4 separate regions of the Homo sapiens genome follow, and all the other regions are linked to region 3. The links come from fine-mapping of genetic effects on gene expression. A gene starts in region 3. Each other region holds a variant in brackets. All regions are shown on one strand. Distances are from middle to middle.

Region 1 (7,825 bases), 550 kb before region 3:
ATTTCCAGGTGATTTGAAATCTTTTCTGAACTGACCCACTTTTTCAGGCTTGAAGGACAGTCTAGCTAGTCAAAGCTATCCCAAAACTAACTCCCCACAGAGTGTGACATCAATGATTTATCACCCCTTAGACACATGCATGCCATTATCTCACTTTTGGTTGTTTTTCACCTTCAAAAAGGCAGTTATAAATGCATTTGCCTTCTTTCTTCCTTCTTACCCGATATCTATTTCCTTTCTATCCTTGGTTTTCAGTTTTCCTGCCTTTCAACACCAGTTTCAAGATAGGGAAGAAAAATCATCTTTCATCAAACCTGCTTTCTGTACTCATACTCAATAGAACCAAAAAGGCTAAGTGCAGTGGTTCACGCCTGTAATCCCAGCATTTTGGGAGGCTGAGGCAGTAGGATCACTTGAGCCCAGAAGTTTGAGACCAGCCTGGCAACATAGTGAGACCTTGTCTCTACAAAAAATAAAAATATTAGCCTGGGGTAGTGGCATGCACCTATGGTCCCAGCCACTTGGGAGGCTGAGGTGGGAGCCCAGGAGATCCTGGTTGTGGTGAACCATGATCAAACCACTACACTCCAGCCTGGGCAACAGAGTGAGACCCTGTATCAAAAAAAAAAAAAAAAAAAAAAAAAGTGGAGGGTGGGGGTGGAGGGAAAAATACAAGATAGTCGCTTTCCATACTCTTCCAAATCAAAAGATAAGTTCAGTGAAATTCATCCATATTTTCCTCAAATGTGATATTTAAAGACCACACAGGTACTTTATCTAAATCCTTGACTCTGACCCTAGTGATGACAATTACAACCACTCAGAATTCACCAGAGAAATCCCAATGTAGCTCACTTAGCTTCAAGTCAAAAATAGCCAAAACATTCCACTTCCTCTTGGTTCTTTTACTTTTGTCCTTTTCCTCAGACTTTAGAAGGAGGTATCCTTTAAATCCTGCATGACTGGAAGTCAGATGGTCAAGTCCCCTTGCCTTGGGAACCACAGCAGTGGGCTCTGAGTCATTGCTTCAGAGTCAAGCTACTCAAGCCGCAGGAGACAGCCAAGTTCTCCCTGAGAGAGAAGGGATAGAGACCAAACAACCGGCCGCCTTTATCTACAAGGTGGAGTGTGGAGGTTGCCTTTCCATTGTATTTTCCCTAAGACCAGAGGAACTGGTTCAACTGAAAAGGGAGGCAGTCAGTCCCCTGCAGTGCACACCCTCCACTTGAGAGACAGCCTCAAGACTCTCCCCTCAGCCCTTTTGGGTGTTGCAATTGGGCAAGCCTCTTCCCAAAGAGTCCACGGACTCTGGGCCATGCACTCAGGCTCAATACAGACCTTATCTTTTCAATCTGTTTTCAAATTGATGCCTACAGGCTGAGTGGAGACTGTTTTCGGTTAGAGTGAGCCTGAGGGAGCCTCAGGGCATGCCCAACACCTCAGACACGACCCCCAGCCTAGCCACAGGCAGGAGTTTTCTTTGGAGAGTGGCTAACTCACCTCCCCCACCATCGTCCTCTGATGAGCCCGTTTTTCATCTTCACACATTTCAGATCTAGGGGAGTGAGGAGTAAAGCAGGAGAAGGCCCCGGGCACCCACCTTGCCACCCTTCTTTTCCCTTTTAAACTGGTCTCATTGCTTGGACCTCTGACTCCCTCAGTCTTCATCTGAGGGTCGCTAGCCTTTTCAGCTCCCGCTCCTACGATAGCCACTCGCACGCCTCCTCTCCTAGCCACGGAGCCAGCAGCCACTGCCTTCACAGGCCCTAGGCAGGAGGCACTTACCAGGCCCTGGAGCCAGCTCCCCAGCCCTCCCCTGCATCACAGCGAGAGTGAAAGTCGGGCAATTCCTCAACAAAGCAAGGGCCAGCAAGACGCCCAGAGAGTTACCCTGAAGGGCAGCCAGGGCTGTCACACATCTGGACTCAAGGAGGCAGCTGTGGGGACTTCAGATAAGCACCACCCCAGCCCCCACATTCTGTCTGACAGGAAACGGACTCCCAAGAAATCCTGCAGAGAAACTCTTTGCGGGGAAAGCAGGGCAGCCTTCGAGCGAACCCACCCACTCAGATTCCCCTTGGCCATTTCCTGCTTCCTCCGCGCTTTATTCCCCCTTTCCCTCAATTCCCAGCCTTGGTTTTGAATGTTTCTGAATCAGACTTAGAGGGTCCCTGGCCCCTCACATTCCTTCTTCATCTGAATTCTGGTTTCTAGAGCTCAAAACCACACGGTTCCAGGCTGCTCTAATTAAATACAGAGATTGAGACCATCTGATGCTAAGATTATGACCTTAATGACGCGCAGGAAAAGTCATTCAGATTTAATTAGTTTTGGTAACCTTATATCTGCTCAGGATAGAAAATTTCTCAGGGCTATGTTGTGTGTTTGTGGCACAGAGGATGCTGAAAGGTGGCTTGGATGAAGTTTATTCACCAGTAACTCAGCCAGAAAGTTCCATTAGGATTTTGCATAGCAGATGGGATGGGAGACTGGGTGGGGTATTGTAAATGGGGGTGGAGGCCAGAGGCCCAAAAGGTGAAACTTTTTAAAAGGGCAAATGTCAAGTAGGGGGCTACATTCTCATTTCTACCCACACAAAAACAGTCTTCCCCCGCTATCCTAGCGTGTGTTAAAGTGACATGAACAGCCTTAGGAGCATCTGCTTATCCTATTTGGGAAGGTTCTGATTTTTTTTTTCAGAAGAAGCCACACAATTGAGAACCCTCCCTCTGTGATCCTTCTCGCCCTCCTGTTCGCCGGCTGCTTTGGGGGAAATTGGTTGCTTCCTGCAAGTCTCTTCCACGACGTTAAGATTAGCAGAATAATTAAATACAGTCCTAACTGGGCACAGAGAGAGTTGTTAATTAATGAGCCAAGCTCCGGCCCGGAGCTACAAATCCACGCTGGCCTGTGAAAACCCAGGCAGAAAAAAATGTGCTCCAGTCCCACGAGAAAATTGTCACTTGGCAAAAATAGTTCCTGGTGTACAGACAGGTGTCAAACACATTCCTGTAGCCAGGAGTCACACGTTAATCCCGCAGCTGAGATCCATGTGTAAATGAGAGGTGAGGTACTTCTCCGCCACTATAGGGACACACGCGGCTCTGCGTCCCCTTCCCACCCCCGCGTCCGCATCCCACTCCCTAGCAGGCTGGCGCCCTGACATCCAAAGTCGCTGCTAGGTGACTGAGTTCCCAAACAGCAGCTCCGCATCCAAGTCAGAACCTCACCGCCAGCCAGCGAGCGCGCGCGTTCTGTCTGGGAAACTGTGAAACGGATCGCAGCAAACTCTCTCACTTCGCCGCCCTCCTGATCCCCAGCCCCATCCGCCTACCCCAGAGGCCTCCCCAACCCTTCCCTCCCTACCACCCTCCCTCGCGCTGAGCGCGACCAGTCTGGCTAACAGAAGGCACCAAGGCCGCCGACAGCCACTCACCTCTACACGGGAAGCAACAGCAGCACTTAGCAAAGAGCCACCCCAAAGAGGGACCTCGGGTGTAAGCCCTGTCGCCGCCCTTCATGTTGCCCCGCCGCCCCAGCGCTCCCGCATGGCACGGGGCGCCAGCCCGGGGTGAGAGCGCGGCGGGAAGGAAACTTCAGCGCCGCCGCCCGAGAGCCGGCTCCCGCCCTCCCCGCTGTGCTCTCCCCGCACCGCGGCCGCAGCTCTGACTTACTGGGAGCCACTGCCACCTTGGGAAGCGGGGAGGGGCCAGGCGGGGAGGGAGGGCCTAAGGGGCGGAGTTCCAAGGTCCAGCTGTGGGCAGGAGACCTGGCCAGCAGCGGCCGGAGCCTCATGTAACGCTGCCTGTGGCACCAACGCTGTGGGCACGGGGCAAACGGGTGGAGTTTGAGCCCTTGGCACCAAACAGGTAGGTACTCCTTATGTGCAACTTCCTCCCTTCAAAGGCCACCACAATGGGCGTTGGCTTAAAAAA[T/A]ACAACTAGATGGGGCCAAAGAGGTAAGAGAGGGGCAGACTTAGATGCTCCAAGACTCAAGGATGCCCTTTTCTTCCTCGCAGCCTCACCCGTTCCCTCCCCACAGCCTCCTCTGTATTGAAAACACCGTCCCCAACCCTTTCCTTTCCTTCCGTGTAATGCTGATTACTAATAATGATAACAGTGCCTCATATTGATCAGCTCTCCAACTGTAATGACGTGAAAACACACTCTGGGTTTGGAATCATACAACCAACCTTCAAAGCTCAGTTTTGCCACCTGCTAGCTGTTTGAACTTAGGCAAGTCACTTCACCTTTTATCTTCAGTTTCCCCATTTAAAAAAAAAATGTAAAAGAATTCCTATATTCCACGGTTGTAGATTTTCTTTAAAAAATTTTCTTTAATAGAGGCAGGGTCTCGGGTCTTGCTATGTTGCCCCAGCTAGTCTTGAACTCCTGGGCTCAAGTGATCCTCCTGCCTTAGCCTCCCAAAACATTAGGATTAGAGATGTGAGCCACCACATACAGCCGATGGTAGAATTTAAAAATATCTATGGATGTCTCCCAGAGTTGCTGATTTAGTAGGTAGGAGGTGGGGCCCGAGAATTTGCATTGCTACAAGTTCCCAGGTGATGCTGATGTTGGTATAGGACCACACTGAGACCTACTTGAGATTCAGACTTTTTCCTTGCCTATTTGGCAACTGTCCCCTTTTCTTTTTGTAACAGCCCCTTGACTTGTCTTTGAGGAACCAGTCCTCCTCCCTTCTCAGGCCATGTTTCTGGGCTAACATCCTGTTACAGAGGTGAAGTTTAATATTTCCAGGTGAATGAATGCCTACAGAGAAACTTCGAACATCTTACTTACGGTGCAAGACTTCCATTCACCATCCCCTCGGCCCAATATGCCCAGTAGACCTATCATTCCTTTACTTATATCCCTATCCCTATCTTTTAAATCTTTTTCATGTTTCAAGGCCAAGCTTGCTTTCCACAACCCCCTTGAAGCCCACTTGGACCACATCAGTGGGACCTTTCCATGAACCACTGTATTACTCACAGGGTGTCTCTCCCATTCCTTTGTGTCCAGCTTTAGGGCAAAGGGCCTGCTGGAAACACACAACACTCATAAAGAGGGCCCATTCATCAGAAAAAAGGGAAGTTTGTGGGAGGAATGAAAAACAGAAGCTTGATCACCCAGGTAACCAATGCCTTCCTGGAAGAAACACACTCATGGGACAAGGCTTTTAAAAGTTACCAGGATTTGGGGCTTCCTTTCCCAGTTGGAACCATGCTTAGATTTGTGCTTTATTTATCTATGTGACAGCCAGGCATGGTTGCTCATGCCTGTAATCCCAGCACTTTGAGAGGCCAAGGCAGATCACTTGAGCCCAGGAGTTCAAGACCAGCCTGAACGATGCAGGGAGGCCCTGTCTCTACAAATAATAAAAATAAATGAATAAGTACATAAATGAGCGGTGCTTGGTGGACCATACCTGTGGTCCCAGTTACTTGGCAGGCTGAGGTGGAAGGATCACTTGAGCCTGGGGATGTCAAGCCTGCAGTGACTCATGATTGTGCTGCTGCACTCCAGCCTGGGCAACAGAGTGAGACCCCATCCCCCCCAGCTCAACCCCCCCAAAAAAAATGTGCCAAGGCATCTGCCACATGGTTGGGATACCAGTAAATGATCGAAGCATGACCTAATGAGTAATAATAGCTTACATTTATTGAGCATTTATATGCTAAGCAGTTTCCTCCATGTTCTCCATATACTATCTCATTTATCCTCATAAAAAAACCTTGTAAAGTAGTGTCCTGTTTTACCTTTGAAGAAACTGAATTAATAAACTATGATGAGGCTTTAATGGTTTAATTCTAAAGAAAAGCTCTAAAAAGCTTCACCCCTTTGGAACAGTAGAACATAAAGTCAAAAATCTACCCTCTAGTTCTGCTACTGCCATCTCCCTGATGGTTTCTCTTGGCAAGGTTTACATAAGAACGTCACTGTCAAGCAGGAAATGAATCTCTGGTGCTCTTTCTAACACATACAAAAACAGAGAAATTACAGTTCAAATTGCTCATGTTGGCTGGGCGCAGTGGCTCACGCTTGTAATCCCAGCACTTTGGGAGGCCAAGGTGGGCGGATCACCTGAGGTCAGGACTTCAAGACTAGCCTGGCCAACATGGTGAAACCCCATCTCTACTAAAAATACAAAAATTAACTGGGCATGGTGATGCATGTCTGTAATCCCCACTATTCGGGAGGCTGAGGCAGGAGAATTGCTTGAACCCGGAAGGCGGAGGTTGCAGTGAGCGGAGATCGCACCATTGCACTCCAGCCTGGGCAACAGAGTGAGACTCTGTCTCAAAAAAAAAAAAAAAAAAAATAGCTCATGTTGTCTGCACCCAAGATTCCTGATTCACTGACCATCCTGATAATTGGTCAGTCTCATTTTGCCAGACTGAATTACTGCAGGATCCTTAATCCTCACATAGTTATCCTGGGTTCCAGTTCTGACCCACAACAACCAGCACTATTATTTAGTTCTCTCTTCCATGTCACCAAAGACAATACCTATTTTGTTTTTCTTGCAAGCCCAGACCAAAACTGTCTGTAAAAATTAACTTTATTTGCTTGTGATCCATAGTATGGATGCTATGGTCCAAGGTTCAATATTTGGTTTACCCACCCAATCCCTCTCTTTTTACACTTTGGGGGCATTATGATGGGAATTCAAAGATGCTTCAAAATTTCATGGGGAATAACCAGTTTGTTTTTTACTCAAATCTTCCCTCTTGGTTTTTGTGTTCAGATAACACTGGATCACTTTTTTGTCACAATTCTTTGCAAGAGACTAATGACATCTCATCCTGCTGAAACTGGCTTGAGTTACATGTTTGAGAAAGACCCAACTCTTACTTTAGAAATCAAATACCAGTAGACCCTAAAGTAGTCCACTATAGGCAAAATGGATCCACTGGGCATGTTTCCACCGATACTTTTTTTTTTTTTTGAGCAGAGTCTCACTCTGTCACCCAGGCTAGAGCGCAGTGGCACGATCTCGGCTCACTGCAACCTCTGCCTCCCGGGTTCAAGCAATTCTCCTGCATCAGCCTCTGGAGTAGCTGGGAATACAGACGTGCACCACCATGCACATCTAAGTTTTGGGATTACAGGCGTGAGCCACCATACCCAGCCTCTACTAATTCTTATAACCCAGGAATTCATCCTACTCTCAATTTAAAGGCATAAAACCATTAGGAACCTCTTCCTATCTTAAGTTGGCAAGGTCAACACATTTTTGGCCATCATGGAGATTCATTCTAGGGTTAGACACCAATAACCCAAGAGTCCCATTGCCATCCTTACATGCCTTCCAGAATGAGACTAGCCAATGTCTATAACCTAACAAGGAAATCCTTTCCTTTCCTTTATTATTATTATTATTATTATTATTTTAATAGAGACAGGGTTTTGCCATGTTCCCTGGGCTGGTCTTGAACTCCTGGGCTCAAGCGATCTGCCCCCCTCGGCCTCCCAAAGTGCTGGGATTACAGGTGTGAGCCACCACACCTGGCCATCAAGGAAATCTCAAACAACATGGGGACACTAACTGTTTGTGGACCTACTCGTTAATTCATCAAATACTTACTGAGTGCCTACTCTGTGTCAGGCTCTGTTCTAGGTACTGGGTCTACATTGGTGAACAAAAACAATTTCAGTCCTTCTGAAGCTAGCTACTAGGACAGACTCATCATGAATGTGAGAGAAAAGTGAATCCACATCAGATATGTGACCAGGTTTATTAGTTGAGAGGGTTAATAGATGCCTAGATTCTCCAGCCTGCATCCAGATGTTTTAAGTTAATATTCTCAAGACAATTTAGA
Region 2 (7,825 bases), 620 kb before region 3:
TCTCTGGTGGCTCCTTTATTCTAGGAAGGGATGCTGGTTCTGGCTGTCCACTCTCAGAGAGTGTGGGGCTTTCTGTTCTAGAGGGAGGGTGTTGGTCCTCAGCACAGGGGCTCCATGTCAGTCACTGAGCATATGTTGGGGGAATATTACTCAGCCCCTCCTTTCCCTACCTTCCTGTTTTTGTTCATCAATTCCCTTGCCTTCTCAGATTTTCTTTCTTCTCTCTGTTGCTTCCTGGCTGCCCAGGCAACAGCTTAGCCTGGCTTGTGAAACACTAGAGGTTTTCAACTAAAATAATCTGTCAGAATGGTCTGTAACCTCCCTGGCTTAAAATAATCCCATAGTGACATTGTCTCAAAGGACTTCACTTGGAAGTAGTCTGCAGGGTTTGGACAGGGAGGTGAAAATGGAATACTTTATATGTTTGACTCAAATAATACTTGCCTTCACGAATAAAATTGCATACTGAGGCTTTTGTGCAACTTACATCTAATCTCTGAAGGATATTAAGGGGTTACCCTTTCCCACTATGTGTCACCAGGAGCCAAAAGAACACCAGTGGGGCTAAGCTCTAGTGCACCCCAGGACAGATTTCTTTAGTTCTAGGAAACACTGTGTTAACACTTGCCATTCCTCAAGCAGGTACAAAGCTGTTTACAAGAGCCTCTTACTGTCTGAGAGGGGTCCACCTGGATCCACGGTCCTCCTGAGACAATCTTTTCCCCTCTAGAGAAAGATATCCAATATGGTCCCTAAGAACAGCAAGCATTACAAGCAGAAAACTCACCTCAATATCTGAACACTCCAAACCAGCCTTCTCACTGTATCTCAGGAAGTCCTAACAAGTAGGGGAAGCAGGCAAGAGTGTGGGAAGGGGTAAAATTAGTAAAATAGCTGGGAAAAAACTTATCATAAAAATACAATAACACCCTGGAGACTTTCCTTCCCAGCAGAAGTGGCAATGGTGTAGAGTAGCTGAGAAATGAAATTATGAGTCATGTAAGATGTAATAACATAGAGAGAACTCCCAGAATATTCAAATTTCTTTTCTTTCTTTCTTTCCTTTTTTTTTTTTTTTTTGAGACATAGTCTCACTCTGTTGCCCAGGCTGGAGTGCAGTGGTGCAATTTTGGCTCACCGTAACCTGTGCCTCCTAGGTTCAAGCGATTCTCCTGCCTCAGCCTCCTGAGTAGTTGGGATTACAGGCAAGTGCCACCACACTCAGCTAATTTTTGTATTTTCGGTAGAGATGTGTTTCACCATGTTGGCCAGGTTGGTCTCAAACTCCTGACCTCAGGTGATCCACCTGCCTCAGTCTCCCAAAGTTCTGGGATTACAGGCGTGAGTGACTGCACCCAGCCTCAAAATTTCAAAGCTATGGGAGAAGGAAGAGTGAGAGGGAGGGAAGACAAAGGAAAGGGGGATTATGACAAGAAAGGAGAGAAAGGAAAGTTAAGTCTCTCTTTTCTATTTAGCCTCCTAGTTCCATAAGATGAATCAAGTTAAGCCATTGTTTAAAATATAATTAGGCCGGGCACAGTGGCTCATGTCTGTAATCTCAACACTTTGGGAGGCCAAGGTGGGAGGGCTGCTTGAGGCCAGGAGTTTGAGACCAGCCTGAGCAACATAGTGAGACCGTGTCTCTACAAAAAAAATAAAAAATTAGCCAGGCATGATGACATGCATCTGTTGTCCTAGCTACTTGGGAGGCTGAGAAGGGAGAATCGCTTGAGCTCAGGCATTTGAGGCTGCAGTGAGCTATGACTGTGTCACTGCACTGCAGCCTGGGTGACAGAGTGAGACCCTGCCTCAAATATATACATACATATTATACTTTATAATATATATTGATTATATATAAAATATATTGATTTTATATAATATATTGATTTTATATATATATAAAATCAAATTTTAGGTATTACTAATCTAATATTTCTAAAGCCTTGCCTTTCCCTTTCTTTCTCCCTTGTAGTTCACTCTGATATCATATTCTTCTTATTTTTTAAAGGTATCAAGTCAATGATTGAGACAAAGTAAGAATGTGAATTGAAAAAATAAAATCAAGTAACAACCCACCTTAAGGGTAGGAAGAACAGCCATGCAGTTTATTTGGGAGCAAAGCTGACAGAGTAACCAGCAGTCAGATAAAAGTTCCCACGTCCCTACCACCCCTCCCACAGTTCACAGTCCTTTGGGACAGTGTGGTGGAGACAGAACCGCTAGCTCTACCCCTAGCTCAGAACCTGCTCTGAGCCTGATGGATCCTTCTCCAGCCCTCACCCAGGCTCCCAGCTTCTTACCTTGAGGAGCAACTGGTATTTTGTTATTCTCTGAATGGGCTTGATGAGGAAGTCACTCAGTGTCAGCCTCTGATTTATCTCCTGTTTTACCTCCTGAAACACAGGCAGCAATATTAGAAGAAAAAGGAACTGAAGAACTGGGGTGCTTTGAATAAGGGTTCAAAGGCATGGAAGACAGGTCTGCATGTTTTCCAATGAAGTTGAAGAATCTTTAAGTAATGTGAGAGGTAAAATTGCCTAGAGGACTGTTCACTTGTTATGAACAACACATAACACACATCACCACTGGCTTCCTGCCTTCCTCCCATGCTTTTACAGTGAGTACTTCCACACCTTGGTCTTCATCCCAGTCCTGGGAGAAAAGCTGGAGGGGCCTTATTCTCTCCACCACTTCAGGGCAAAGGCAGGGAAAAGGGGCTTCTTCTAGGACACACAAGCCTATGGAGCCAGGCCCTAAACTTAGATCTCCAAACACTCAGCTGAGTGCTTTTTCTAAGTGATGATGCTGCCTTTCTCCCAGCAAAATAAATCCTTCTGGGCTAGACCAAGCAGACTAGGAAGTGGCTGCAAACCCTTCAACCAACAGAAGACTCCTTAGTAAGTGGTCCCTGGGGGACTGGTGGGTACAGTCTGCTCCAGGGTCACTTAAGAAGAACTGGAGCTTCTCAAACCATCTCTGTGTTCAGGCTTATTCTGCAAATGGGGGATTCTCAAATCAGAACCCAGACTGGGCCACCTCAGCTCCTCTCAAGTGAAGGTGCTCATGAGAATTTAGCTAAGAAGCTGCTTTCTCTGTTGAGGCAGCTATTCCTGCCATGAATGGGTCAACGGTGCTGTGTGGGGGTCACATATGGATGGATGACGTCTGGTATTTCTGAAAGTGGCTGTTTTGGCCTGAGTTTTCCTCCCACCCCAGTTCAGCAAAGCCTGCACAGCTTACCTCAAAGTAGGCGTCATACTCAGCAACGATGTACTCTGAGCGCGGCTTATTCTGACAATACCACACGTAGATGTGCAGCTTCCGCTCCTGAAAGAGCAGAGAGAGACATGTGGACAGTCAGGCATCTTGTGTCTTTTGTTCAATCTCAGAGTGCCGTGCTGGCCTCCACGTGGACAAAGGACAAAGGCGCACTTGGGGACGCACCAAGGCAGCTGAATATCAAGGATATAAATGTGGTGGGCAAGAGCCACTTTCCAAATCGCCAAGGTGGTCAAAAAAACAAAAAAACTTAGAGAGGGCTGAGAAAGAAGGTCACTCAAGGAAGAGCAGAAGAGAAGAAATTTTATTTACTTTTTTTTCTGAGACAGGGTCTTGCTCTGTCACCCAGGCTGGAGTGCAGGGTGGGGCCATCATGGCTCACTGCAGTCTTGACCTCCCAGGCTCAAGCGATCCTCCTGCCTCCGCCCCCCCAAGTGGCTAGGACTATAGGCATGTGCCACCAGCCTTGGTTAATTTTTAAATTCTTCGTAGAGATGGGGGCCTCACTATGTTGCCCAGGCTGGTCTCAATTCCTGGGGTCAAGCCACCCTCCCACCTTGGCCTCCTAAAGTGTTGGAATTACAGGTGTGAGCCACTGTGCCTGGCCAGGATTTTAAAATGAATATAAATGAGCCTAGTGAAGGAGTTGGGGAGGAGGTGATGGGAGACACT[C/T]ACGTGCTTAATAAAGAGCTGTGCCAATCTGTCTTGCTCCTGGATACACTTTTCCAGTTCCGCCAGGAAAAAACTAAAAGGAGAAAGGGGATAAGAGAAGGAAGCCACATTATTCAGAACTGTATTATTTCTCAATAATAAGATGAATTACAGAAGACTCTCCCCTAAGCCCTACTCCTTGAGTCAGATGCAGGAAGAGGACTCAAGTCCTGGATTCCCAGGACACTGGATCCTCGGGGCAGCATTAACACTTACTCCTTATGCCAGTCATAAATCTGATGAATATTTCCAAACACGATTTTGTCCTTTCCTCGCATATCCTCAGGGACACCCTTTTCTTCTATTCTCTTCATGAAGCCCTGCAGCAGCAAAGGCAATGGTTAGTAGCATATTTTCACAGGAAAGCTTTCTGGGCCATGCCACACACCACAGCACCCCTGCAAGCCCACACTCTCTGCGTGAGTTTGCGGACAAATGCTTCTGTGGTTTCTCACTATTCAACCAGGTCTTTAACCCCTGGTGCAGAGCAATAGAGAAAACTTTTATGAGTTTCAGGATCCCCTTCTTTGTCTCCAGTCCCCTTAAGAAAGCAGAGCACAGAAGAAAACAATAAGCTGTCCCTCTTCCTTCTCCCAATCCAAATTAATCAGGTCTATAAAGGCTCAGAACTAGATACATCTGGCCTAGAAATAAGTCTTAATATGTTAATACTTTATAGTCTATAAAATGTGATCATAGAGAATTTCATTTCTGTTTTAAAATCAGGTTTTGAGGTTGGACAGGTAGCATTATCCCCATCTGACGGACAAGAAAACCCAGGCACCTGGGTGTTGGATGATGACTTGTCCATAATCGCACCACTGATGTCTGAGTTCCCTGCATTTCAGCCTCCCAGTCTTCAGATTCCCTCGTCCTCTACTCCTGGGCTGGACTGCATATGGAAGCTATTGTACCTCTTCCACCCCCCAGCCCCACAAAAAGACAAGAATAACTTTCCGTAAGTTAAAATTCAGGTTTTCTATATGGCTGGTTAATCTGTTTATCCAAGATTCAGAATAAGCAAATACAAAACCCTAAGTCAGCAGATTTCACAGGATGGGAACTCAGGCCAAATGTAAGGAACCAGCAGGCAATGTAGGCTTTAGGCATAGAATTTTTATTTTTTTGTTTTATTTTTACTTTTATTTTTATTTTTTGAGATGGAGTCTTGCTCTGTCGCCCAGGCTGGAGTGCGGTGGCGCGATCTCAGCTCACTGCAAGCTCCGCCTCCCAGGTTCACGCCATTCTCCTGCCTCGGCCTCCTGAGTAGCTGGGACTACAGGCGCCCACCACCACGCCCGGCTAATTTTTTTGTATTTTTAGTAGATACGGGGTTTCACCGTGTTAGCCAGGACGGTCTCGATCTCCTGACCTCGTGATCCACCCGTCTCAGCCTCCCAAAGTGCTGGGATTACAGGCATGAGCCACCGCACCCGGCCGAGAACTTTTAGACTTCATGTTCTTTCAAGATGATTAACAATAGGGCTCTAAGCCATTCAAGTTACCCATTTACTTTCTCAGGCTTTTTTTTTTTCATCCAAGTGTCTAAGTCCCTCTTAAGTGAATCCCTACAGAGCTAGATTTGTTTAATTTACTACCAAGTCGACTCTTAACTGTGGACCTGTCAACCTTGCTCATTGGTGGGTTTTTCTTTTATCTGTCTTTTTGCTAGCTGTAACACTTACCCTTGAAATCTATGGAAATGTATAAGCCCTAAGATCCCACTAAGAATGAACTGTTTTATGCCTATGTGGCTCATAGCTCTGAAGAATATATGTCCACATAGTTAAACATCAAAGAAAAGCTCTTAAGACAATAGCTTGGTCACCTAAAACAAAGTGGAATGAGTTCCACTCTAACCAAGAGGCTCCCCCAAATGCTATAACATTCAGGCCACTACTTCCCTCTAAATATCTTATTTCAAGGGGAAAAGAAAAATATTGCCTACATATTCTACTTATTACCATTTTTATTTTCATTTCTGCAAGTGCTCAGACAGTAAAGTACATGTAACCATCAGATTAAAACACCTTGGCCTAGGTAGGGTCCAACGTGCTCCTGGTTGGGTGACCACAGACCCACCTGGAACCCTCTACTTACCTCCACCACAATGCCCAGATCCTTGACATAGTCTTTCTCTGTCTGTACCAGCTCATTCAGGACAAACCTGAGCAGGAGATTAAGAACAGTGAGTGTTCCTCTTCATTGTTAAGCCAAAAATCTTCACTTAAGTTCACAGAAAAGTTACTTTGGCACCTTTATAACAAGACCCCTTAAAACACCCACACTTATCTCCTGGGAAAGATGCTTACGGATGCTTTCCCTAGAGGAGGCCCTACTGAAGGGCTGAGGACACCAAGGCCAGAAAGGACTTCCCCAGGTGACATACAATAGTCACACGAAAAATGACGCTCAGTACCTAGCATTCTTCTTTCTATTCTTCATGTGTTTCTCCCTCACCTACAACTGAACGATTGTATAGACAGAGGGCAGAAAGATTGACAACCATTTTGGCAAAACTGCGTTCTGAAAGCTTTGAGGCTGGGCAGGGGTTAAGATGAGACTTTTCTTCCTTCATTTCAGCTCCATTCTTCACTTAACAAGAAGAGAAAGACATTTATTTGATTACCAACCTGTAAGTCCTCCAAGACAAGGATAGATATCAAGTGAAGTTTTTAAGATATGGAAGCTGCAATTATTCAGATAGGTATCATGGTAACTGGCCTGGAAAACCCCCAGTCAAGGCCAGAAAGATGGACTGCAGACATTCCAAAATCACACATTTAATGCAGCACTACCTTCTCCAGGATGCAGGATTTAACAATTACAAGGACATTTGCTCTCTTGGTTTCTTTCTTGTTAATTCTTTCTACCATTTACTATGTGCCACTCCCTTCATCTGGGTTTTCCCATGCTTATAATAAGGTAGGTATTGTAAAACCTATTTTATATAAATGAAAATGCAGAGACAGAAAGATTAGGTAACCTGACCATGATTGCAAAGTGAGTAGCAGAGCCAGGATTTGAACCCAGTTGTGCAAGAGTCCAAAGACCATGCTCTTTCCCAGCAGCCCACTGCTTGGTAAACTACTCTGACTGGCTCTTGGGAGTCCTTGAAGCCTCAAACCCAAACACTCTTTCTGTCTTTTGTCCAGACACTAAAGAGCTTTACATAAAATGCTAAAGTTGTGCACAGGGGCAGGGTGGTGCTGTGCAACCTACTGGAGTCAAACTCTTCCAATCTGATTGGAATGAGTTTTGCCTGGGACCACACAATTGCATTTTGGGCACAAGTAGCAGAAATGATAAAGTTCTGAGATGTCAAAGTGGGACCCCAGCACAAGGGTGGTAACCATTTTTAACCCAGGAAGCAATTCATCTGAAACTCTTGCTCCGTATAGCCCCAGAAGCCACCACATTCCTGGAGCCTGGGGCCTCTGGGCAATGGGGAGGAAGCAGAGGAACACATGCTTCTTTATCAGTGCACCCAGCACTTCCAACAGCTCCCTCTCCAGCACAGACAATCATGTGTTTTAGGCCACAGGAAGGAACTGGCAAGGCCAAATGAAAGCATTTAAATATATCTTTACCATGGCCCAAGTTACCGCCTGGTAGAAAGTGGCAAAAGAAAACCCACAGGAAAGTTAGAGTGGGAATATGGGGCTGGGAGGGCCCTCTGGAGATGAAGTCCAGCTCTCTGTCTCCAGGCGATATTTTTATCCTAAGCTATTTGCTGACAGATGAGGGCTATCTTTGGCTTCTCAGCCTTTAGAGAAGGGAACTGTATTAGGTGCTGCTAGTGGACCTGTCATCTCTTCCCTTGAAGGGTTAA
Region 3 (7,825 bases):
GGCTTCATTTTCCTCTCCCCCATCACTAGATTATCAACAAGTCCCCACACTTATACCTCTAAAAATGTGTCTCAATGGCATCCCTGACTCCCCATCCTTTCTGCCACCAACCCAGACCAAAGCTCCTCCCCCTCACCTCCAGATCACTTTTGCATCTCCCTAGATTCTACCCTTCTCTTCTCCACTTATTAAATCATATTATCCCAGATTAACCTTTCCAAACACCACATTTTTCATGATGTGTCATTGTTCAAGAATCCATAATGACTCCCTACTGCCCCAGAATCAAATCCAATCTCCACTCTTGTGCTTTCAAGACTCTCCCTATTTGACCCTGCCCCACTTCTCCAATCCTGTTTCCCATTCCTCACTAACCTACATCTTCCTCTATGTCAGCCCAGGCTCTTCAATGCCCAAACTCCCATGTGCCACTGCCCATTCTTCATTCATCCTTCAAGGACCACCCGAAGTTCCACCTCCTCTGTAGTTCTGCCAACTTTTTAACTTATAGCACCACAACGCTTAGCAATAAATCTCTAATTGAACAGTAAATGTCAATCTTCTTCAGAAGTTCTTTGAGGACAGAGACCACTTCGAATATTTCTTTTGTGTTCCACAGCACCGTGGACAGCAGAAGCCTCTAGGGATAATTGAAAAGTTGTTTTTGATTGCTGGTCAATTGGTTTCTGGTCCCAGTTATCAGTTCCCATAACTCCCCTCCTCTGCCTCATAACTATGATCAATAAAATTACTGTAACACACTTTCTCAGGCTTGGAACAGAGAATTCCCAAGAAGACAATCTGGAGTCTACCAATCTAGAATAGTAGGCTGGGTAGGGTGGGATGTCTGTGTCCATGTGCACACAGGGAAGTGAGATTTAGGGAATCTAGCTTAACCAATTGGTCAAGGGATTGAAACACCAAAATGATCAGAAGAGGACAAACAAGGAACCAAAATGACAGAATAATTTGAAACATGCCTAATTAGAAGCACAGTATGCCAGAATTTTGACAAAGCAATTTCCAGTTTGGTCCTTGTGCATACAAAATTTTCCATCAGAAAGAAAGGGGTAACCCTGGTGCTAGGGACTTTGAAAATTTGTTTGAAGCTTTCTCAGTTGTTCAATAGAATACATTTATAATCTATCCAGCCTATCAGGTATAGTGCTATATTCCACAGAGATGGGAAATCAGAAGGGAGAAGGTTTAGAAACATGGCTTTTCTAAGCTTAAGAATCTCCACCAACGCATATGCATATGTTCATTGCAGCACTGTTCACAATAGCAAAGACATGGAATCAACCTAAATGCCCATCAATGGCAGACTAGATAAAGAAAATGTGGTACATGTACATCATGGAATACTATGCAGCCATAAAAAAGAATAAGATCATGCCCTTTGCAGCAACATGGATGGAGGTGGAGGCTGTTATCTTAAGCAAACTAACGCAGGAACAAAAAACCAAATACTTCATGTTCTCACTTATAAGTGAGAGTTAAACAATGAAAACACATGGACACAAAGAGAGGAATAACAAACACCGGAGCCTACTTGAGGGTGGAAGGTGGGAGGACAGAGAAAATCAGAAAAAATACCTATCAGGTACTATGCTTATTACCAAGGTGATGAAATAATCTGTATACGAAACCCCTGTGACACACAGTTTATCTATATAACCCATACATGTACCCCTGAACCTAAAATAAAAATTAACAACAAAAAATAAAAATAAAAAGAAGAAGAAGAATCCCCAGCAAGAGCCTAGGCTAGAGACCAGAAGTGTGGTGACAGTCAGTGAGCCAAGCATAGAGGGCCACACAGGGTGGATGTAGTCCTTGACCTACCCCCTCTTGCAACATGTTACAGGTCATCAGTCATTTCCAGCCTCATGCACCAATGACTTAACCTTTCTCTGATACTAAGTGCACATCAGACTTAGCTCAGCCACTGGGCTGCCCAAGGAGGAGGGAGAATATCCCCAACATAGGAATCCCACAGGAGACTGACCCCAGTCTGCTATTTATTCTGTGATTTGAGCCAGGGTTAGATAATGTGTGCCACACCTTGTGTTTTGAAAGGCCCTGGGAAAAGTAACACATTGGACTATTATTGGCCATTAACACTGTGTGAATTTATTATCAGAAATAAGCAAGCCTCCAGGAACTGAGCTCTGCTACGGGTGCCTGGAACAGAAAATGAACAGGACCTAGTGTTTGGATGATAGGAAAGGGGAAAGAGGAGTGGGCACCAAAAGGTAAAAGTGGAGTCCAGAAAGGGAAGGTGGGAAGGCTCACACTTCAAGATTTTTCCCTCAGAGCTAAGAAAATGCAGACTTTTGCCCCAGTTGGGAGGCAAGGGGGGTCAGCTGGGTTTTTGATTGACTGGTCAATTTGTTTCTAGTCCCAGTTATGAATTCCCATATCTCCCCTCCTCTGCCTCATAATGAGTATTTCTGAATATCACTTAGCCCCCAGAACCACCTTTTCCCTAGATTCCACCTCTTTAGAATCCATGCTTTTGGGTGCTGGGCTGTGTGTGTATGAGAGAGAGAGAGAGAAGAAAGAAAATAGAATCCATGTCTCGGAAGAGGAAGGAGGGAAGGAAGGAGGAAGAAAGAAAAGGAAAGAAGGCTTAGACCTGGGAAGCAGAATAGAATGACAGGGCTCCCTCTGATTTCCCCAGACCCTGGCACCAGCTCCTGTCCTCCAGTTTTTTCCTCTGCACATCAACTAGAGAATGAACATATGAGCCAATCAAGTCTTGACTTCCAAAGCCACAAGTCTCCCCCGCAAAGCACCCCACCCCCTTCCCTAGAGATGACCTCCAGGGCAAGGTAACAGGGTTAGGAAACAGATGGATGTGCAGAGACCCTCCAGAGCTAACCTGACCCCTGACCCCCACCAGTTCATGTCCTCTAATCCAACTTTCCAGAAGGGAGAGCAGATGCATGGGGCCCCGGTAACTTACTGGACTCCTTGGGACAAAGATTCCAGACAAAACTGTTTCAGACATGTGGGGAGATGGGGAGCTACACACAGAAGCTGGTGGAAGCCACAGGTACAGGGAGACGGGGAATCCCTGGCCATCAGAGAAACAGGGCCACAGGTGGTGGAAGATAAGGGTGGTCAGTGCCGGTTCTAGGGAGGGACTGTGTAGCCAGGGAGCAGGAGGAGCAATGGACCCGGGACTTGGACGATGGCAGGGGCGCAAAGAGCTAGAAAGACATCTCAGGGCTCTACACCTCACAGCAAGCAGAGACTTAGTGGGTGTGTATGAGAGGGACGCTAACTCACACTTCCAGGAATGAGTAATTCTTATGAATAGCTCCTCCGTTCCCAGAACTGAAGAGGAGGACAAGGGGGAGGTCCGAGGCGCCCACCGCCCTCCCAGCTGGGTCTGCCTCTCAAGTCAGAGGGACCAGCTCCCCACACGCACCAGGCGAGACCGATGTCTTCCGCCCCACTCCTGTCAGTCTGCAGCCGGCGCGGCTCCGGGTCCCCGCCGCCCCTCTGTGCACATCAGGGCCCCGGGCCCCCGACGGCGAGGAGGGGTGCCGACCCAGGGCGGCCGCCGGGAGCCCCGCTGACAGGCACAGGGGAGGGGGAGCCAAGGGAGGGGCCGGGACGCCGGTAGCCGGAGCGGCGCGCTGCAAAGTGAGCCAACACCGCCCATCCCCGCGCTCTGGGAGAAGGCGGTCCGAGGGGACCGCCTCCCACCTCCCCAACACAGACTCCCGCAACTGGGGTGAAGGCGGAGGGGCGCGGAGTTCCCAGCCCCCACGCCCTCCCCAGACGCAGCCAGCACTGCCATAACAACCAGAATCTCGGCAACTCCAGCCCCGACGCCGAGGGGGCACTGCCCCCCAACACGCACGCGGCAGCAACAGCCCTCCTTCCCCAAACTTGTCCGAGACGCCGCGTCCGAGGCAGTAGCCTTCAGCCCTGGCCCCCCGCGCCCTGCCCGGCTTACCTGTCCGGAAAAAGGCGTCCACGTCCGAGTCTGCTGCTCCTCCTTCCTCCGCTGCTCCCTCAGGGGGGTTCATGACTGTGGGAGGGCGTCCGCGGGCAGCCGGGAGCCGAAGAAGCCTGGGGCCGAGGGCTGCTCGGCGCCCGGTGGGCGGAGGGCGCGGGGCGCAGCTGCTGCGGCCGCAGAGCTGGCGGCCGCGGAGCTTCGAGGGCGGGCGTTGGGCGGCGGGGCTGGGGCAGAGGACGCTGAGCCTCCCTCAGGCGGAGGCGCGCGGCGGGCTGGGGGTGCCTGCCGCCAGCTCCCCCATGGTACCCCTTCCCCAGGGCGCTGGCCGCCTGCTGTCTGGCTGGGGCCGGGGCCCGGGGCCGGGGTGCGGGCTGCCTGGGCGCCCGCTGTCCCCCAGCAGCGGCAGCTGGCTCTCCTGCTCGCCCGTCTGCCTGTCTCTATTGTTCAGCCCTGCTCCGCTCTCTCCTCTTTATTTTTCCTCCTCCCTCCCACCCTCCCTGTCTCCCTACCTCCTCCCTCCCTCGCTCACTCGCTCACTCGCTACCTCCCTCCTTCGCTCGCTCGCTCTCTAGCTCCCCCTCTGGCTCCCGCCGCCGCCGCCGCCGCAGCAGCCGCCTCCCCAGCTCCTCCCCCGGCTCCCGCTCCCTCAGTCCCGGCCAACAATGACCCCGGGAGCGCCGAGCTGAATTGAAGCTCCGGCCGGGGCCGAGGGCTCGCTGCGGGCCCCCGGCGGCGCCTACGCCCCCAGTCCCAGCGGCCCCGCGCCGGCCTCCCGGGGAGCGGAGCCCGAGTCCCGAGCTATTGTTCGAGGCTGTGCTAGGCCGGCTTCCTGAGCTCCGCAGGAAAAGCCCGGGCCAGGGAGGGGGCGGGGCCGCCGGGCGAGCCCGGGGCTGCAGGGCACACGCCAGGCTTGTCCAGGGGGCTCTGCGGCCCGGGCGCTGCGCGCTCAGCTTCTCCGCTCGCGCCGCCGGTGCTCCTCCCGGCCCCGCGGCCACCTCCTCCGTCCACTCCACTCCCAGGTGTGTGAGGGGACCACCAGGCTGCCCGCCCGCCTTCTCTGGATCTTCAGATCGGTCTCCAAGCTGGACTGACCTGTCCCTAGAGGCCGGCCTTTCTTCCCCTCCTTCCTGACGAGCTCTCTTCTGTCTCCCTGCCCTCCTGAGCCTCTCACATTTTCCTCACCAGCTCGCCACAGTTTCTCTCCTTTTTATCTTTTCTCGTCCTTTTCCCCTTTTCAGCGCCCCTTTAAACATCTCCGCCTGTCTCTGTGACTCTTTGTCCAGTTTAATGCTCCTGTGATGTCTCCCTGCCTATCTCTCCCTCCCTCCGTCACTCTCTTGTCCCTCGTTTGTCTCTGTCCTGCCTCCGTACTTGGCCCGTATCTCCGCGCTCCTCTTGGACAGCTGTCAAAACTCTCTAATCCCTGGGGCCTTCTCGGTTTTGTTCTCCCTCATGTGAATGGAGAGATCCAGTTGGCCAGGAGGAAGGAGGTGTTACAGCAAGCTGAATTTCAATTAAAGTGGGGAGAGGGGCTGGGGAGGAATGGGGATGGCTGCAAAAAAGAAAACAGATGCTGTATGGGGTAATTAATGCGGTGATTGTATTGTGCCCATCAGTTTTTAAGCAATAATTAAACAATAATTAGCCAGTAGTGTGTTTATGGTTCTAGTGACTACAGAGCCCACCAAACAGAGGGTCTTTAAGACCTGAGTACTTAATAAGGTCTGCTGAGCGCTGTTCGCTGTTGCCTCATCCAGACAGATGGAGAAGTGGTGGCCTGACCTAATGTGTTAAAACACGCCTAATAGGAAAACCAGGTACTGGTCTGAAGTTAATGACTGCAACCCATCAGACAGAATCTCCTGGATCTGTTTGTCTCTAGTAACCTGTTTGGTTCCACCTCTCTCTGGGGGCCAAGGCAACTGGGGCCTATGCAGATCCACCAACTGTGTAAACTTGTAGCAAATAAAATGAATTAAATTAGTTTTTAGTGAACACTTTCTGGCTCCCTGTACGCATCACGTTCTTCACTGACACAAACAGTCTAATTTTTTTTCACCCATTAAAAAAAAGTACCTGTTTCCAACCTTGGATACACCTATCAGACCTGTCTCCAACCTTGAGTACATCTATCAGACCTCTGTAGTGACTCTGACATCACAAGTTCACTGCCCTGAGATCTAATTCATCTGGCCCTAGTATCTTGAACTGGCTTAAGATGCCCCTTTGCCTATGCCTTTTCTGACAATGAAAATACTTCTCATTTGTCTTTTCAAAATCTTCCTTCCCCTTAATCCTTTGCCTAACCCCTGGTCTGCTCCCCTACCCCCGCACACACATATGTGATGGCAGAGCTGCTATTAATTAATTGCCACCATTGTGCAGCTAAAGAACCAGTGGCCTGGCAAGGCATTAGCTCATCACAATTCAGAAGAAACATTACATGTTTAGAGGAAGGGTCATATCAAAATCTCAAGATATAGACAAGAAAGGGGGAACACCTTATGTAATGACACAAACTTTTTTTGAGAGGAAATTTGGCAACTTCTATTAAAATGTTAAGTGTTCATGGCTATATTAATATCAAAGAAGACTTCAAAGCAAAGAATATTACCAGGGATAAAGAGGAACATTTCAATTCATCAAGCAGACGTAACAATCCTAAGAGTGTTTGCACCTAATAAGATAGCTTCAAAGTACATGAAGCAAAACTGATAGGATTGCAAGGAGAAATATAAAAATTTATAATTATAGTCAGATAATTTAATATCTGTAAAATGCAGTAATTAATAGAATAAGGAGACAGATCATCAGTAAAGATATGGAAGACTTGAACAATGTTATCAACCAACCTAACCTAACTGACATTTATAGAATATTCCACTCCATAACAGCAGATACACATTTTTTCAAATGCACAGGTAGCATTTGTCAAGATAAACCATACACTAAGCCATAAAACAAATCTCAATAAATTTAAAAGGATTAAAATCATGCAAAGAGGTACATAAATTATACCTAAGTTGGTTTTTAAAAAAAAATCAGAGTATGTTCTCTGACCACAATAGAATTAAACTAGAAATCAATAACAAAAAGAATCTAGAAAAACCTCCCAAATATTTGGAAAGTAAATAACACACTTCTAAATAACACATGAGCTACTAAGAATTCAAAGGATGGGCTGGGCACCATGGCTCATGCCTATAATTCTAACACTTTGTGAGGCTGAGGCCAGGGGATCACCTGAGGCCAGGAGTTCAAGACCAGACTGACCAACAGGGCAAAACCCATCTCTACTAAAAATACAAAAATTAGCCGGACATGGTAGCGTTTGCCTGCAATCCCAGCTACTCTGGTGGCTGAGGCATGAGAATCACTTGAACCCAGGAAGCAGAGGTTGCAGTGAGCCAAGATTGTGCCACTGCACTTTAGCCTGGGTGACACAGTGAGACTTTGTCCCCTGCCACCCCCACCAAAAAAAGAATTAAAAGGGGGATATTAGAAAGAATCTCAAAGTGAATAAAAATGAAAACACATTACATAAAAATCTGTGGGATGCAGCTAAGGCAGTCTAAATCTGTGGGATGCAGCTGAAGCAGAAAGACATTTATAGTGCTAAATACCTATTTTGAAAATAAAGATCTCCCATCAATAAGCTCCTATTCTACTGTAAGAGCAAACGAAATCAAAGTGGAAGAACAGAAATAAAAAAGATCAGAGCAGAAGGCAATAAAATAGCAGGAAAACAAAAGAAAAAAATCAATGAAACTAAAGTGGGTTCTTTAAGATCAATAAAATAAAAAAACCTCCACCCAGACTGATCAGAAAATAAGAGAAAAATCTCAAATTACT
Region 4 (7,825 bases), 670 kb before region 3:
ACTGCAAGTTCTGTCTCACCTTCTGTGGGAGGTGGTTCTATTGTCAGTTCAGTTTTCAGTGTTTACTATGCTTTTAGGTCTGCCCCTTGTGAGCACCACACAAAGATTAGTCTGAGACTAAACAGTCACTGAGCAGTGGTTTACATCATAGTCCAGTTCTCAGAGCCTTGCTATATTTCTTTGGATGTGCCTCATACAAGCACAGCTGGAAGGTGGCCCAGGATTTGAGTCATTTCATATAGAATTAGGAGATCTTCTTCTTTTGCTTTCTCCTGAGATTTCCCCTGCATTCTTTATCTCCCAAGTGCCCCTTTTTGAAGTTGTCTGGCCAGAAAGATGGGATTCCCTCAGAGGTTTAGCTTCCTGCATTGTCATGCAGTTTCACATGACTGCCCTCGGGGTGAAGCAGTGACAGTAAGGAGACACAAAAAAACAATTAAGCATGAATTATTCTGTTCTCTCCAGCTCAAAGGGTTCCCTTTTCTTTGTCCTTTGGCCAGAAATGTGGGGTTTTCTTGGAGTTTTTGCTGTTTGTGCATGCTACATAGTTCTTTGATTTGGCCCACACTTGTATCAAAGCTGGGGAGATAAAGGAGAAAAGAGGAAAGAAGAAAAAAGGTAGGAAGGAAGAAGGGAAGGAAGGAGGGAAGGAAGGAAGGAGGGAAGGAAGGAAGGAAGGAAGGAAGGAAGGAAGGAAGGAAGGAAGGAAGGAAACTGCTATTCTCCTTGTCATTAGCCATTCTTCAAGTTTTTACTTTACTTTCTTTCCTTTTATTTTTTTGAGACAGGCTCTTGCTCTGTTGCCCAGGCTGGAATGCAGTGGTGCGATCTCGACCTCCCAGGCTCAAGCAATCCTCCCACCTCAGCTTCCCAAGTAGCTGGGACTACAGGTGTGCACCACCATGCCTAGCTAGTTTTTTCTTTTATTTTTTGTAGAGATGAAGTCTCGCCATGTTGCCCAGGCTGGTCTTGGACTCCTGGGCTCAAGTGATCCTCCTGCCTCAGCCTCCCAAAGTGCTGGGATTACAGGCGTGAGCCACCACACCCAGCCCAAGTCTTTTGTCTTTCCACTCTCATCTCTATTATTTAATTTGATACCCAGGTATTGCTTTTTGTATCTTGTCCAGGGATTCTGGTTGTAATCAGTGGGAGATAAAGGCTACAGTGGGCTTACTCTATCTTGGGTGGCATTGGGAGTTGGCTCATTTTGAAAGTTCAGGAATAAAAACGTGTTTGGTGGCAGGGCACGGTGGCTCACACCTGTAATCCCAGCACTTTGGGAGGCTGAGGCAGGCGGATCACCTGAGGTCAAGAGTTTGAGATCAGCCTGGCCAACATGGAGAAACCCCATCTTTACTAAAAATACAAAAATTAGCCGGGCATGGTGGCAGGCACCTGTAATTCCAGCTGCTCGGGAGGCTGAGGCAGGAGAATCGCTTGAACCTGGGAGGTAGATGTTGCAGTGAGCCAAGACTGCATCACTGCACTCCAGCCTGGGAGACAGAGCGAGACTCTGTCTCAAAAAAAAAAAAGAAAAAGAAAAAAGATGTTTAGAAGCTCTGAGCTTGTGGGTGAAGCCTGTCACCTTTTACTTTACTACAGAGTGATTTGACAAGACTGCTCAGTTGGGAAAGCTCCACAATCAGTATCTTTAAGTCTTTCCTTTTGGGCTGGTTAGAGTTCCCAGAGAAAGAGCCCTCTGCTTTCTGCCTAGAGGGTGAAACCCTGGCTGTCAACCTCTGGAGGTCCAGTGGATAAGAGAGCTGGGGTTCTGAGTACCCAGCATGCATACATTCTCATATTGTCCCTGTTTGCAGAATGGCTCCACTGCCTTCAACTGTGCCTGGTGTCCCCAAGGGCAGGGATGCTCCATTTTTCCCTTTCCAGAAAATAAAACTCCAGGCCAGGCACGGTGGATTATGCCTGCAATCCCAGCACTTTGGGAGGCCAAGGCGGGAGGACTGCTTGAAACTGGGAATTCGAGACCAACCTGGGCAACATAGGGAGACCTTGTCTCTATGAAAAATTAAAAAGTTAGCTGGGCATAATGGTGTGTGTCTGTAGTCCCAGCTACTTGGGAGGCTAAGAGGATCACTTGAGCCCAGGAGGTCAAGGATGCAGTGAACCATGATTGAGCCACTGCAGTCCAGCCTAGGTGACAGAGTGAGACCCTGTCCTAAAACAACAACGACAACAAAAGAAACAAAGAAATAAGAAAGAGAGAGAGAGAAAGAGGGAGGAAGGAAGGGAGGGAGGGAAGGAAGGAAGGAAGGAAGGAAGGAAGGGAGGAAGGAAGGAAGGAAGGGAGGGACCAGTCTTTTCTTGGATGAAGAAAGACAATCACACAGATACTTGAAGCTGGGGAGCAGATTTGGAGCCAGCTTATCCCTTGGGAATGCTGACTGGTTGCCTGTATAGAATCTAAATTGTAGCAGGACCAGGCCTCCAGGTAAGGATGGCAGGCTGAACACAGACATCAGTTTTCACTCCCTTCTGAGACTCAACTTCTCAAAAAATTTCAGCCAATCCTTTCAATTTTAGCATCCTCCTTTTACCTACTTCCAGAGGTACGTGATGCTCCTAATACCTGAGCTTTTGGGTAATTCTGCTGCAAAAATTATACTGGCCCTCATTTGACCCCATGACTGACTGACTCACTCAGGTCTTGAAGGTCATTTATCATTCTTTCATCTGTTTTTCTGTAGAAGAAAAACATGAATTTCTGTGAAAAACATCTGTATTTCTGTGAAAATAATACTTTATTTTTGTCTCTTCTTCCAATGTCCTCATTCTTATATGCCTACTTAAAAAAATAAAATAAAATAAAATAAACCCTGCATTATAGTTTCAATGAAGTTTAGGAAGAAGTGAAGATAGATGCCTGTGTTCAACCTGCCATCTGACCTGGAGGCCTGGTACTGCTACCTTTTTATATAGCAATGGGTATAGGCAATGGGTCAGCATTTCCAGTGACAATCCCCTGCCTTCTCTATACTGCATTGTTGCCTGTATAGTTCATTCCTGGTTAAACACGCCATACTCAAGTGCCCTTTCCTTCTATGGATGTGCTGTAGGAGAGAATCTTCCTGCACTGTGGCTTTTTATAGTATTTAATTACCAGAGCACTCCTTTTAACAGAATAGTCACAAAGGCCCAGAATTCCAGATTTAGGTGTGATGAAGCAAGTCGATTGACTTCTACAGCCCTGGCACAGATATCTTTCCTGTGTCTCACATTAACATCTCCATGTATTATTTGGGCCTGGTGGGGTGGCTCACGCCTGTAATCCCAGTACTTTGGGAGGCCAAGGTGGGTGGATTGCTTGAGCTCAGGAGTTTGAGATTACCCTGGGCAACATGGTGAAATACCGTATCTACAAAAAAAATGCAAAAATTAGCTGGCTGTGATGGCTCACGCCTGTAGTCCCAGCTACTTGGGAGGTTGAGGTGGGAGGATCACTTGAGCCTGGAAGGTCGAAACTGCAGTGAGCAGTGATCATGCCACTGCACTCAAGCCTGGGCAACATAGTGAGTCCCTGTCTCAAAGAAAAAAGAAAAAAGAAAAAAAAAGAATTTCCATGTATTATTTCCATTCTGTTAATGTACAACATTTTGAAAAGATCTTCTGAAAATATAAGGACTATTCTTAGGAGAGAGGACAAGCTTCAGGCTGTTAGAGACTTTAAAACAAAAACATCGATTACTTTTGAACAGATAAGAAAATTGATCTTCCCTTTGAGAAATATCAAATCAGCCATCTGTTTTAGCTAAAACATGACTTAACCTATGGCTAATAATAGCAAACACATGCCTCCAGGAGGAATTAACTGGGGCATCCGGGTGATGAAACCAATTTCATTTAGAACTAGCTGGGGATTTAATCGGCCCATTATTGGGGGTCATGTTTAGCTTCACAAATTTCA[A/G]TATAATAAAGCAAACTAGATTTCAGTTACTAGAGCTTATTTTGGACAATAATCGATATGATGAGAAACAATATATGCTAGTAAAACAAGACCAGGCTTGGAGTTGGGTAGCCCAGAATTTGAATCCTGGCTCCACACCTCCTAGTTGTGGGGCTTTAAGAAAGTTACTTAACCTCCCTGACCCTGAGTTTCCTTTACTGAAAATATACTTCAGGCTGGGTGAGATGGGTGGCTCACACCTGTAATCCCACACTTTGGGAGACTGAGGCAGGAGGATTGCTTGAGCCCAGGAATTTGAGACCAGCCTGGGCAACATAGTGAGAACTCCATCTCTACAAAACAACAACAAAAGATTCTTTTAAAAGTTTGCCAGGTATGGTGGTGTGCACCTGTAGTCCCAGCTACTTGGAAGACTGATCATCCTCCCCGCAAGCGTGGGAGGATAGCTTCTTAGGAGATTGAGGGTGCAGTGAGCTATGATACTGCCACTGCATTCCAGCCCTGGTGACAGAGACAGACCCTGTCTCAAAAAGAGAAAAAAGAAGACAAAAAGACAATATACTCAGCCTGGTGCAATGGCTCAGGCCTGTAATCTCAGCACTTTGGGAGGCTGAGGTAGGAGGATTGCTTGAGCCCAGGAGTTCAAGACCAGCCTGGGCAACATAGCAATAACCGATCTCTATCTTTTTTTTTTAAATCTGCTCAAACAGTATCTCATAGTGTTGTATGGATTAAATTAAATAATGTTTGTGTATTAAGCAGTAGAGCTCAAACAAACAAAAATAACATTTGTATATAGTATCTGCTTAGTATCTAGAATACTATAGATACTGAGATCATCATTATCATCATCACCATTACATAAATTTCCTTGGCTTTTTTTCTTCTGTTTGGCTACACAAAGAAGACAGGAAAGGAGAGGTAGAGTTTGTTTTTGATGAAAGGTGCTGTAACGGAAGGCAGTGAATGATATTGTGACTCCTGCCTAAGACACAGGCAGAAGGACCATTTTGGTTTCCTCTACAACGTCGGTCACAACCACGTCAGTTAAAAAATGTTATGCTTCACTGAGAAATGCTAATCAGAGCTAGAAATGATGTCAATGGCCCATCGTTAGTGGGTATTCTTTTATTTATACATCCGGGGGGAAGGATCTTACGGGTGGGCAACCTGTAAGATCTACCTACATTCCCTCACACAGACCACCTGGAGACCAAAGCATGCATAGGGATGAATGCCTTTTGTTTCTTTCCCATAGACTATTTTGTGGGCCAGGTGATAGATTTTTAATTTTTCTGTTAAAAGTCATATTTTTATCTGTTTTATTTTTGAGGACACACTAAATGTTCTCTAACCAAAATACTGCAAGTGAGAAAGAGAGAGAAAGAGAAAGGTATGGAGTGTATGTGTGTGGCAGGGGGAGGATTGGGATTAGAAATACTCATAAAATAATTAATGTGCTTGGTACACGGGCAATATAGAGATGTATATCCAACAATTAGTGATTGCACAGTCTTCCCAGGAACATGTGGAAATTTTTACAAAAAGTAACCATGTACTACTCATAAAGCAAGTCCAAACAAAAACCAAGGAATCAGTACCATATAGATTTTCTGACCACAATGCAAATTAAGTTAGAAATCAGTAATAAAAAGATACTTTAAAAAAACTCATACCTTTAAAAATCTCATATATATTAAAACATGTTTCCATTATAACCAGGTCAAAGAAAAATTCACAGTTGAAGACAACTACATATAACTTATAAGGAAAATACTGCATATCAAAACTCAGGACCTATAGCTAAAATTGTACTTTGAAGAAAATTTTGGGCCTTAATTTCTTATATTAGAAAAGAAGAAAGGTTGACAACTGATGAATGAAGCATCCAACTTAAGAAGTTAGAAAAAGAACAGTAGAAAATACAAACGAATATTTTAGTTTTTTTCTTGCTATGGAGAGAATTGCATTTGTAAAAGAAATAAACAATGACAACAACAAAAAGTTACTGTTCTGATGTGATGTTGCTAGGTGTTCATGAATGAAGGAATATAAAACTGTGTCATTACCTTCCAATTTCATTCAGCTCAGTGTAAGCTGAGTCAAAATTTTCCTTCCAAGAAATGGTGGCACCATCAGCAGCAGCATCTTCGGAAGAAAGAGAATCCATTTACAATATCGAGGATGTCATATAAGAATAAAGAAAAAATTAACAGAAAAGCTCCAGAGTAACCCCAAAGCAATTCTCATGACCAAATATGGAGTCTGACTCAGTGGGAAAATGCCATGATTCTCTGGAATGTTATTTTAAAAAATCATCCAAGGGGAAACTGACATGACAGAGTCAGCTTCTCTCTCCCATCTACTTAAACAAAGGGAAAACGCAGTACAATCAGAAATATGACTTATGGATATTTTATAAGATAAATTTAGGAGAAAAATTTAAAAGGGATAAAAGAACACTTTGAAGACCTAGAAAAGCTCGTGAAAATCAGGGGTGTAAGGAGGATGCAGAGAGAGAAGGGAAAAGTTACAAGGTCAAGAAAGGAGAAAAGGAAAAGACATTTTAGAAATTTCTCTTTCTAACCTGAGCCACATAGCAAGACCCTGTCTCTACAAAAAAATCAAAAACTAGCCAGGTATGGTGGTGTACACTTGTAGTCCCAGCTACTCAGGAGGCTGAGGTTGGAGGATCACTTGAGCTCAGGAGGTCGAGGCTGCAATGAGCTATGATCGCGCCACTGCACTCCAGCCTGGGAGACAGAGCGAGACCCTGTCTCCAAAAAAAAAAAAAAAAGAAAGAAAGAAAGAAAAAGAAAAAATTATCTTCTTATCCCGCTCTTCTCAGGCATTAATGAGCTTATCTGGTATACTGAAGGATTTAGCTTAACCCACAATATATGCCTGAGTAGATTCTTTGGCAGTATTACCTTGTGTGATGTGTCAATTCCTTGGCAATGATTCACGCACGCGTGCACACACACACGCACACAGAGCAAGCACAGCAATACGCATTTGTGTCATCTGTTGGGGACCAAGGTTCACAAATAGCAAAACACACAGCATCATCCGGGGCTGGAGCAAGTGAGCAGCCTGGGAGGAGAGGGGTCACATGAGCAGCTTGGCTCAGCTGACCCTGGAGCCAGTTCCCTCAGGTTTCCCAGAGCACAGCCTGGCTGAGACTGAAGGCGGCTTATCCATCTTGAATTCTGAGGAAACAGAGACCCAGGGCGTAGGTTTCTGCAAGAGTCACAGGCTCGTGGGAACAAAGTCAAAGTCACTGGGAGAAAACCGGGCTGACTGTGGGACTGGAACTGGAGAGCATTTCTGGATTCAGGTGGGGGCAGAGGTGATTTAGAGGGTTTCCCAAACCCCTCTGGAGACTCCAGAATTCCCTTAACCCTAAGGCACACAGGTCCATGGTCTTTCGAGTACAGTCAGCTGCCCCCCACCCACTGCTCTCCCCAGTACACACAGACCACTCCCTTGCACTGCCCAAAATCTCACCATTTGGAGATTTCTTTAGGATAGCCAAGTTTTCTCTTTCAAAATGTCCCTGGGACGAAGATGTTTTGGGCAAAATAAGAACCTTATTTGTAAAATACTCATATTTAGCTAGCTATATGTGTATCTTAGTTACTTTTTCAACAAATCTACATAAAATTATACCCATGTTGAAAAAAGAAATTCTGGGATGATTGGGGGTGAGGAAACTATGAAATCCTCATGTTGTAATGAAGTCCTTCAGCCAGGTTGCTTTTCTTTCCCCCATTTGAAGTGGGTGAGTCCCTCATGCAGGGAGGTACATTTACGGCTGGCAGGGGTGCCCGGGTGGGAGGAGGCTTTGTATTACTGTCTCAGAAGAGGGGCAGAGAACATCCACAGGACTCATGACTCCTGCCT

Direction of the effects. Alleles are on the strand shown, and positions count from the first base shown. SD is a standard deviation of normalised expression in the study named. Not every link is listed here.
In carriers of allele T in region 2, the expression in regulatory T cells of the gene that starts at base 4,415 in region 3 tends to be lower than with C alone (moderate effect, 0.72 SD a copy in Schmiedel 2018).

What was found.
Region 1: its variant is fine-mapped to the expression of KALRN in esophagus mucosa (GTEx, PIP above 0.99).
Region 2: its variant is fine-mapped to the expression of KALRN in regulatory T cells (Schmiedel 2018, PIP 0.92).
Region 4: its variant is fine-mapped to the expression of KALRN in whole blood (TOPMed, PIP above 0.99).

What each region holds. Positions count from the first base shown.
Region 1 is chr3:124,580,518-124,588,342 of GRCh38, reverse strand. The region is part of intron 34 of KALRN (kalirin RhoGEF kinase); the gene reads right to left. It overlaps LOC105374076 (a long non-coding RNA gene), which reads left to right and starts at 3,784. Exons shown (of 4, transcript XR_001740872.2): 1 at 3,784-3,869. RefSeq lists a silencer at 3,381-3,560. The variant T/A (reference allele first, on the strand shown) is at 3,936.
Region 2 is chr3:124,653,936-124,661,760 of GRCh38, reverse strand. It overlaps KALRN (kalirin RhoGEF kinase), which reads right to left. Exons shown (of 60, transcript NM_001388419.1): 39 at 6,094-6,160; 40 at 4,210-4,313; 41 at 3,958-4,027; 42 at 3,244-3,330; 43 at 2,304-2,396; 44 at 788-838. Among named protein-coding and RNA genes, the nearest start is that of UMPS, 73 kb to the left of the region's middle. The variant C/T (reference allele first, on the strand shown) is at 3,955.
Region 3 is chr3:124,029,959-124,037,783 of GRCh38, reverse strand. It overlaps KALRN (kalirin RhoGEF kinase), which reads right to left and starts at 4,415. Exons shown (of 60, transcript NM_001388419.1): 1 at 3,971-4,415. The coding sequence starts at 4,043. RefSeq lists a silencer at 4,440-4,899.
Region 4 is chr3:124,700,283-124,708,107 of GRCh38, reverse strand. KALRN (kalirin RhoGEF kinase) reads right to left here. Exons shown (of 60, transcript NM_001388419.1): 57 at 5,992-6,070. It overlaps LOC124906276 (a long non-coding RNA gene), which reads left to right and starts at 7,085. Exons shown (of 3, transcript XR_007096039.1): 1 at 7,085-7,259. The variant A/G (reference allele first, on the strand shown) is at 3,923.